Homo sapiens: one gene and its partners. The protein of the gene in region 3 purifies or fractionates together with the protein of the main gene of each other region. This does not show direct contact. Each region holds a gene or a part of one and is shown on either strand. Other genes may lie near its edges.

What was found.
Region 1: the proteins of AKAP7 (region 3) and PRKACB purify together in Homo sapiens (affinity purification with mass spectrometry; 5 studies listed by BioGRID and IntAct, with this or other methods). This does not show direct contact.
Region 2: the proteins of AKAP7 (region 3) and PRKACA purify together in Homo sapiens (affinity purification with mass spectrometry; 4 studies listed by BioGRID and IntAct, with this or other methods). This does not show direct contact.

Annotation. Positions count from the first base shown.
Region 1 is NC_000001.11:84,231,157-84,234,907, reverse strand, and holds part of PRKACB (cAMP-dependent protein kinase catalytic subunit beta), read right to left. Parts: intron 1-3,751. UniProt on the Homo sapiens protein: Mediates cAMP-dependent signaling triggered by receptor binding to GPCRs.
Region 2 is NC_000019.10:14,091,113-14,093,838, reverse strand, and holds the end of PRKACA (cAMP-dependent protein kinase catalytic subunit alpha), read left to right. Parts: intron 1-46; coding exon 47-211; intron 212-601; coding exon 602-727; 3' UTR 728-2,151; downstream 2,152-2,726.
Region 3 is NC_000006.12:131,133,437-131,137,187, reverse strand, and holds the start of AKAP7 (A-kinase anchoring protein 7), read right to left. Parts: upstream 1,722-3,751; 5' UTR 1,695-1,721; coding exon of another isoform or gene 1,425-1,694; coding exon 1,406-1,424; intron 1,319-1,405; exon of another isoform or gene 346-1,318; intron 37-345; exon of another isoform or gene 1-36. UniProt on the Homo sapiens protein: Probably targets cAMP-dependent protein kinase (PKA) to the cellular membrane or cytoskeletal structures.

The DNA of each region.
Region 1 (3,751 bases), on a different chromosome or scaffold from region 3:
TACGGTCTACAGCTCCCAGCGTGAGGGACACAGAAGACGGGTGATTTCTGCATTTCCATCTGAGGTACCAGGTTCATCTCACTAGGGAGTGCCAGACAGTGGGCGCAGGTCAGTGGGTGCACGCACCGTGTGCGAGCCGAAGCAGGGCAAGGCATTGCCTCACTCAGGAAGCGCAAGGGGTCAGGGAGTTCCCTTTCCTAGTCAAAGAAAGGGGTGACAGACGGCACCTGGAAAATCAGGTCACTCCCACCCGAATACTGCGCTTTTCCCACGGGCTTAAAAAACGGCGCACCAGGAGATTATATCCTGCACCTGGCTTGGAGGGACCTACGCCCACGGAGTCTCGCTGATTGCTAGCACAGCAGTCTGAGATCAAACTGCAAGGTGGCAGTGAGGCTGGGGGAGGGGCGCCCGCCATTGCCCAGGCTTGCTTAGGTAAACAAAGCAGCTGGGAAGCTCGAACTGGGTGGAGCCCACCACAGCTCAAGGAGGCCTGCCTGCCTCTGTAAGCTCCACCTCTGGGGGCAGGGCACAGACAAACAAAAAGACAGCAGTAACCTCTGCAGACTTAAATGTCCCTGTCTGACAGCTTTGAAGAGAGCAGTGGTTCTCCCAGCACACAGCTGGAGATCTGAGAACGGGCAGACTGCTTCCTCAAGTGGGTCCCTGACCCCTGACCCCTGAGCAGCCTAACTGGGAGGCACCCCCCAGCAGGGGAACACTGACACCTCATAGGGCCAGGTACTCCAACAGACCTGCAGCTGAGGGTCCTGTCTGTTAGAAGGAAAACTAACAAACAGAAAGGACATCCACACCAAAAACCCATCTGTACATCACCATCATCAAAGACCAAAAGTAGATAAAACCACAAAGATGGGGAAAAAACAGAGCAGAAAAACTGGAAACTCTAAAAAGCAGAGCGCCTCTCCTCCTCCAAAGGAACGCAGTTCCTCACCAGCAACGGAACAAAGCTGGACGGAGAATGACTTTGACGAGCTGAGAGAAGAAGGCTTCAGACGATCAAATTACTCTGAGCTACGGGAGGACATTCAAACCAAAGGCAAAGAAGTTGAAAACTTTGAAAAAAATTTAGAAGAATGTATAACTAGAATAACCAATACAGAGAAGTGCTTAAAGGAGCTGATGGAGCTGAAAACCAAGGCTCGAGAACTACGTGAAGAATGCAGAAGCCTCAGGAGCCGATGCGATCAACTGGAAGAAAGGGTATCAGCAATGGAAGATGAAATGAATGAAATGAAGCGAGAAGGGAAGTTTAGAGAAAAAAGAATAAAAAGAAACGAGCAAAGCCTCCAAGAAATATGGGACTATGTGAAAAGACCAAATCTACGTCTGATTGGTGTACCTGAAAGTGATGGGGAGAATGGAACCAAGTTGGAAAACACTCTGCAGGATATTATCCAGGAGAACTTCCCCAATCTAGCAAGGCAGGCCAACATTCAGATTCAGGAAATACAGAGAACGCCACAAAGATACTCCTCGAGAAGAGCAACTCCAAGACACATAATTGTCAGATTCACCAAAGTTGAAATGAAGGAAAAAATGTTAAGGGCAGCCAGAGAGAAAGGTCAGGTTACCCTCAAAGGGAAGCCCATCAGACTAACAGCGGATCTCTCGGCAGAAACTCTACAAGCCAGAAGAGAGTGGGTGCCAATATTCAACATTCTTAAAGAAGAGAATTTTCAACCCAGAATCTCATATCCAGCCAAACTAAGCTTCATAAGTGAAGGAGAAATAAAATACTTTACAGACAAGCAAATGTTGAGAGACTTTGTCACCACCAGGCCTGCCCTAAAAGAGCTCCTGAAGGAAGTGCTAAACATGGAAAGGAACAACCGGTACCAGTTGCTGCAAAATCATGCCAAAATGTAAAGACCATCGAGACTATGAAGAAACTGCATCAACTAACGAGCAAAATAACAAGCTAACATCATAATGACAGGATCAAATTCACACATAACAATATTAACTTTAAATGTAAATGGACTAAATTCTCCAATTAAAAGACACAGACTTGGCAAATTGGATAAAGAGTCAAGACCCATCAGTATGCTGTATTCAGGAAACCCATCTCACATGCAGAGACACACATAGGCTCAAAATAAAAGGATGGAGGAAGATCTACCAAGCAAATGGAAAACAAAAAAAGGCAGGGGTTGCAATCCTAGTCTCTGATAAAACAGACTTTAAACCAACAAAGATCAAAAGAGTCAAAAAAGGCCATTACATAATGGTAAAGGGATCAATTCAACAAGAAGAGCTAACTATCCTAAATATATATGCACCCAATACAGGAGCACCCAGATTCATAAAGCAAGTCCTGAGTGACCTACAAAAAGACTTAGACTCCCACACATTAATAATGGGAGACTTTAACACCCCACTGTCAACATTAGACAGATCAATGAGACAGAAAGTCAACAAGGAATTGAACTCAGCTCTGCACCAAGTGGACCTAATAGACATCTACAGAACTCTCTACCCCAAATCAACAGAATATACATTTTTTTCAGCACCACACCACACCTATTCCAATATTGACCACAGAGTTGGAAGTAAAGCTCTCCTCAGCAAATGTAAAAGAACAGAAATTATAACAAACTATCTCTCAGACCACAGTGCAATCAAACTAGAACTCAGGATTAAGAATCTCACTCAAAACCGCTCAACTACATGGAAACTGAACAACCTGCTCCTGAATGACTACTGGGTACATAACGAAATGAAGGCAGAAATAAAGATGTTCTTTGAAACCAACGAGAGCAAACACACAACATACCAGAATCTCTGGGACACATTCAAAGCAGTGTGTGGAGGGAAATTTATGGCACTAAATGCCCACAAGAGAAAGCAGGAAAGATCCAAAATTGACACCCTAACATCACAATTAAAAGAACTAGAAAAGCAAGAGCAAACACATTCAAAAGCTAGCAGAAGGCAAGAAATAACTAAAATCAGAGCAGAACTGAAGGAAATAGAGACACAAAAAACCCTTCAAAAAATTAATGAATCCAGGAGCTGGTTTTTTGAAAGGATCAACAAAATTGATAGACTGCTAGCAAGACTAATAAAGAAAAAAGAGAGAAGAATCAAATAGACGCAATAAAAAATGATAAAGGGGATATCACCACCAATCCCACAGAAATACAAACTACCATCAGAGAATACTACAAACACCTCTACGCAAATAAACTAGAAAATCTAGAAGAAATGGATAAATTCCTCGACACATACACTCTCTGAAGACTAAACCAGGAAGAAGTTGAATCTCTGAATAGACCAATAACAGGATCTGAAATTGTGGCAATAATCAATAGCTTACCAACCAAAAAGAGTCCAGGACCAGATGGATTCACAGCCGAATTCTACCAGAGGTACAAGGATGAATTGGTACCATTCCTTCTGAAACTATTCCAATCAATAGAAAAAGAGGGAATCCTCCCTAACTCATTTTATGAGGCCAGCATCATCCTGATACCAAAGCCAGGCAGAGACACAACCAAAAAAGAGAATTTTAGTCCAATATCCTTGATGAACATTGATGCAAAAATCCTCAATAAAATACTGGCAAACCAAATCCAGCAGCACATCCAAAAGCTTATCCACCATGATCAAGTGGGCTTCATCCCTGGGATGCAAGGCTGGTTCAATATATGGAAATCAATAAATGTAATCCAGCATATAAACAGAACCAAAGAAAAAACCACATGATTATCTCAATAGATGCAGAAAA
Region 2 (2,726 bases), on a different chromosome or scaffold from region 3:
AGTTCCAGACCAGCTTCCCACCCTGTCCTTGTACCCCTTCCTCCAGGTGCGCTTCCCTTCCCACTTCAGCTCTGACTTGAAGGACCTGCTGCGGAACCTCCTGCAGGTAGATCTCACCAAGCGCTTTGGGAACCTCAAGAATGGGGTCAACGATATCAAGAACCACAAGTGGTTTGCCACAACTGACTGGATTGCCATCTACCAGAGGAAGGTGGGCCTCCCCTCCTTAAGCCTGCTGAGGGTTTGGGAGCAGGCCAAGAGTCAGGGAGGACAGCCAATAGAGAAATAGAGAAGAGAACACAGGTTCAGGAGCAACCTAGAGTAGAGAGCTTAGAGCAGTGGGGTCTAGAAATGGGATTCTGGGGTCATTTGGCCATTCCATGACCTTGTGCAACAGATGCCTCTCTCTGGGAAGTAATTTCCCCTTTGATGAGTTGCTACATTAAGAGTTTCGGGCTGTTAAGAGGAATCCATAACCTAATGGTAAGCACAGGCCTGAGTCAGAGTAAATATCTCTTGAATGTTAGGCCATTCGCATTTATTGTTGTAATAATGATTATGTTGAATGCTGAGGTCTGGGTGATTCTTGATCCCTCTCCAGGTGGAAGCTCCCTTCATACCAAAGTTTAAAGGCCCTGGGGATACGAGTAACTTTGACGACTATGAGGAAGAAGAAATCCGGGTCTCCATCAATGAGAAGTGTGGCAAGGAGTTTTCTGAGTTTTAGGGGCATGCCTGTGCCCCCATGGGTTTTCTTTTTTCTTTTTTCTTTTTTTTGGTCGGGGGGGTGGGAGGGTTGGATTGAACAGCCAGAGGGCCCCAGAGTTCCTTGCATCTAATTTCACCCCCACCCCACCCTCCAGGGTTAGGGGGAGCAGGAAGCCCAGATAATCAGAGGGACAGAAACACCAGCTGCTCCCCCTCATCCCCTTCACCCTCCTGCCCCCTCTCCCACTTTTCCCTTCCTCTTTCCCCACAGCCCCCCAGCCCCTCAGCCCTCCCAGCCCACTTCTGCCTGTTTTAAACGAGTTTCTCAACTCCAGTCAGACCAGGTCTTGCTGGTGTATCCAGGGACAGGGTATGGAAAGAGGGGCTCACGCTTAACTCCAGCCCCCACCCACACCCCCATCCCACCCAACCACAGGCCCCACTTGCTAAGGGCAAATGAACGAAGCGCCAACCTTCCTTTCGGAGTAATCCTGCCTGGGAAGGAGAGATTTTTAGTGACATGTTCAGTGGGTTGCTTGCTAGAATTTTTTTAAAAAAACAACAATTTAAAATCTTATTTAAGTTCCACCAGTGCCTCCCTCCCTCCTTCCTCTACTCCCACCCCTCCCATGTCCCCCCATTCCTCAAATCCATTTTAAAGAGAAGCAGACTGACTTTGGAAAGGGAGGCGCTGGGGTTTGAACCTCCCCGCTGCTAATCTCCCCTGGGCCCCTCCCCGGGGAATCCTCTCTGCCAATCCTGCGAGGGTCTAGGCCCCTTTAGGAAGCCTCCGCTCTCTTTTTCCCCAACAGACCTGTCTTCACCCTTGGGCTTTGAAAGCCAGACAAAGCAGCTGCCCCTCTCCCTGCCAAAGAGGAGTCATCCCCCAAAAAGACAGAGGGGGAGCCCCAAGCCCAAGTCTTTCCTCCCAGCAGCGTTTCCCCCCAACTCCTTAATTTTATTCTCCGCTAGATTTTAACGTCCAGCCTTCCCTCAGCTGAGTGGGGAGGGCATCCCTGCAAAAGGGAACAGAAGAGGCCAAGTCCCCCCAAGCCACGGCCCGGGGTTCAAGGCTAGAGCTGCTGGGGAGGGGCTGCCTGTTTTACTCACCCACCAGCTTCCGCCTCCCCCATCCTGGGCGCCCCTCCTCCAGCTTAGCTGTCAGCTGTCCATCACCTCTCCCCCACTTTCTCATTTGTGCTTTTTTCTCTCGTAATAGAAAAGTGGGGAGCCGCTGGGGAGCCACCCCATTCATCCCCGTATTTCCCCCTCTCATAACTTCTCCCCATCCCAGGAGGAGTTCTCAGGCCTGGGGTGGGGCCCCGGGTGGGTGCGGGGGCGATTCAACCTGTGTGCTGCGAAGGACGAGACTTCCTCTTGAACAGTGTGCTGTTGTAAACATATTTGAAAACTATTACCAATAAAGTTTTGTTTAAAAAAAAAGTGTCGCTGGTGTTCTCGACTTCGATCACCCACCCACACACCCCCAGGGGGTTGGAAAGGGAATTTCGGACCCCAGCGTGCAGGCCGATCAGGTCCTGGCTTGAAGTCCTTGTAACCAGGGTTTAGCTGAAATTCCGGCACTCCTTCGGCCCCGCAGGAGAAACGAGCGTCAAACTGCCCTTTGACCCCAGATTCGGGGTCCCCAAATCTGCGGCGCGCCCCCTCGGCGTCCAGCCCGGGACCGAGAGGGCGCTCTAGGGAGGCGCTGGGGCTGGCGCGCCAGGAGGCCGAGCGGCGGCGGGGGCGGCCCTGGCAGGGGGAGTAGAAGGGGGAGAGGGTGCGCGCCCCCCTTCCCGCATCCTCAGCGCCGGGCCAGGCGCGCCTGAGGGACGCGGGGGCGGCGGCAGCAGGAGGGTCCCCGCAGCACCCTGCGAGCGCGGCAGCCCCGGCCCGCGGGCGGCGAGTTCCCGGTAAGTGCGGTCCCGAGAGCGGAGCGCGCTGGAGAGGCGTGGAGAGGGGGGCTGGGCGCCGGGGACGTCTGGGTCCCGCGCCCAATGGCTGGAGGGCGGCCGAGC
Region 3 (3,751 bases):
AGTTCAAGCCTTGGTGACATGGCAAGACCCCGTCTCTACAAAAAAAAAAATACAAAAATTAGTCAGGCATGTTGGCACAGACCTGTAGTCCCCGCTACTTGGGGAGGCTGAAACAGGAGGTTGGCATGATCCCAGCCGATCTAGGCTGCAGTGAGCCATGATCGCGCCAGTGCACTTCCACCTGAGCCAACAGAGGAAGACCCTGTCTCTAAATACATATATACATATATACATACATACATAAGTACATACATAAATAAGTTTATTCCTAAGAACAACTGGAAAGGGCTAAGGGCATCCATTCTAGTCCTGGCTTAGCTACTAAAAATAGTATTAGCATCTTACACGTTAGTAAATGTTGACAGCTGCGTAGAAATCAACAAGTTACTTGACCTCCAGGCTTTCCTTTCCTCCTCATAAAAAGGGAACAAAAGTAAAATCCAAATTATTAGGGAGAAATGGACAAAACAAGTTAATAGTGTCCGAAAATGGATGAAAGGAGGAAGTAACCTCCACAAACATCTTAAACTTTATGAGTAAGGAAAATATACAGATATGCTAACAGGATCCTGAATTGCAAAGCCACGGCACTTAAACAAGGAACTGGAGTATGGCTCTTTTCTCCTTAACAATTTCCATTCCCATGCATTTCCTAAATGCAAAAACTCACTGTCATCATTCACTTAACAATTGTCAACATATTCACACGATTAACTGCTATTTATATAGTACACTTTAACGTTTTTATGCTTTTTATACTCTTCTATGAGTTTATCCTATGAAACTCTTGCAGAGGAGCACCTTTTCTCTAATTGGTTTGCGGACCCTTTTACCGAAAGTCCACCCCTAACTCGCTCTATCACAAAGTTCAGTTCACAACAAACGCTGACCTAAACTGGAAATTCATTCCGGGCGCTAGTGTAGACTTGGCGCCAGTTTTAAAAGCGGTCATGTCCAAACCTGGCAGAAAATCCTAAATGAGACAGTATGGTGGTTCGGGTGCTTAATATTTGTGATATAAGATAAAATCGAAATTTTACTAGGTTTTGTTTACATTTACCCACATCAACACCGTCGGAAGGAATGTGTACTGGCATGAACTTTGTGCAAAGGGTCACAGGATGAGAAAGGGAGAAAGAAAAGTGAAACTCGGGGATGGGCTCATACCCCCGCCTCCTGTCGGACCCACAATGCGTGCATTAAAACGCTTCGCTACAGGCAGCACTGATGTACACCCCGGTTGCACCGGGCTTCTCGGTGCTACCCTGAGTCCTTTTGGGAAGGAGGGAGACTCGGAGAAGGGCCGGCGCGGGTCAGGCCCTCCCAAAGTTCGAGCGCAGAGCAGGCCCAGGCCCCCGCGGCTCCTGTCGCCCCCGCCCCGGCCCGCTGGACAGCCCGGTCTCACCCGCTTCGGGGCGCTCCATGGTCGCGGCGCATGCGGGCGGCGCGTCTGGGCTGGCGGCAGCGGCGGTGGCGGGCCGCGTCCCGGGGCTGGAGGCGAGGCCGAGGCGGAGGCCAGGGCGGGGCTCGGGGCCTGAGGGCGGTGCGCTGGGCCGGCGCGGGGTCCAGCGACAGGCTGCGGGGGCCCGGGCGGCGGAGGCCAGGCCTGCGGAAGCGCGGAGCTTCCCAAGCCGCAGCCCCCGCGGCAGCGGCAGCAGCGGCGGCGGCAGCCGCAGCAGCCGCAGCACCCGCATGCCAGGCCGGACGCCGGAACAAGCCAGAAGGGGCCGACCCGAGTCGCCGGTGGTACCCGGATTCGGGCGAGAGGCGCGGACGCGCTCGGGCAGGGCGGGGGAAACTAGGGCCGGCGACTGCGGCGTCACGGCAGCCCAGGTCGTCTCGACTCTGCAATGCGACGCTGGGTCTTCGCCTGCCTGCCGAGCCCCGCGGCCTCCGACGGCCTTTGGCAGCCCTCATTTATTTCCCGTGGCGCAGCCTTGCCCCTCCCACGCTTTCAAGGGCGAGATTGGGACTAGGATGAAAGAATTCTCTGGCCTGGTGTCTTTTGAGAATCCATGTGCTTAGTTTTGCAATCAGGGTTCTGATTGCAGAATATTTGGGAAGAGCGAAATGTACAAGAACGAGACCTTGTACTTCTGTATAATGAGATACTTTATTTACCTTACTTTTAAAAACTGCAAATTGTGACAAAGTCTCTAATTTTTAACAATGATGTTATGTTTAGACATTAAGAGGAAACCAGTTGCTGGTTCTTGTAGTATAAGGTACTGCAGTGAGTAAATTGGGAGAAAAAGAAATTTACTTAGTTTAAAAAAATAAAAACCTTTCACTTGAAACGGAATGCTATTGGGATTGGTTTTAGTGCGAAGAAACCAGGGGTTAAGAACATTAGGTGCATCCGTCCACAAATTAGCGCCTTTCGTGAATAATAACACTTCGCTTATGTTGAATGCATCGTAGAATAGGGATGGAAGAAAAGAAGACCCCTACACAGCCACAACAGCTGGCGTAAAGGCTGCACACTAGAAGTCGGCAAACTAGTTACTCTGATTTTCAAATAATTCTAACACGTTGAGTTTCTGATGCCCATTTATGGGCTGGTAGGAAAGTACAACCAGTTCCCCTAATATTTATTTAATGCTTGAGCTCTGTGCTGAGGATGTGCAGGTAAGACAGGTCTTTTACTTATGGAGCTGATCATATAATAGCAGAGAAAGAAACATAAGTAACTGCGGAAATAAAAGCTGCAAAAATGTGGTCCACATTCATAGTGAAGAGGATGAGAATATGCCACCCCAAATATGCCACTTCAGCATAAGGATTATTCTTGAGCTTAAAACAGTTCAGAAACTAAAGACTCAGGAACAACTTTGACCTCCCCCTTTCTGCCTAAAAGCAGGACATAAATTTCCCTTCGTAAAGGTGACATAAATTTTTATTTTTAAAGCTTTACCAGGCCGGGCCCAGTGGCTCACGCTTGTAACCCCAACACTTTGGGAGGTCAAGGCGAGTGGATCACTTGAGTCCAGGAGTTTGAAACCAGCCTGGGCAACATAGCAAAACCCTGTCTCTACCAAAAATACAAAAATTAACCAGACGTGGTGACCCATGCCTGTAATCCCAGCTACTCCAGAGGCTGAGGTGGGAGGATCGCTGGAGCCCAGGAGGTGGAGGTTGCAGTGAGCTGAGATGATGCCATTGCACTCCAGTGTGGACAACAGAGCCAGATCCTGTCTCAAACAAACAAACAAACAACAAAGCTTTACCACTCACCCATACCAGAAAGAGGAGAATGAGTCTTACCTGCATAACAAACCCATACATTTTCTAGTAACCTTCCCATACTGCAAAAAGGCTAAGCCCCCTTTTCCTTTGTCTAGCCTCTCCACACTTTATCATCGTTAAAATGGTATAGAAGCCCCCAGTTCTAACTGCCTCTTCGGGCTTTTAGTTCTTTCCTGTGAAGCATCTATGTGCATGTGTAATAATCCTTTTCTCGTCTTAATCTGTCTTTTGTCAATTTAATTTACACAGTCCAACCTAGTGAACTAAATGGGCAGGAGAAAGATTTTTCTTCCCCTGTGGTGTGTACCAAGAGATATATGGAAGTTTCATTCTCTTACCTAAGCAGAGGTAACAGCCCAAATGCCACATATTTTTCACCACCAGTATTATGAATACAGAGTCTTATCAACACCTACCATGTGGAGGAACATTTTAATTACCCAAGTCTGAAAAAGGAATTTTTCACAGAGCTTCTTTTAGAAATGACAGGGAGAAAGGGAAGTAC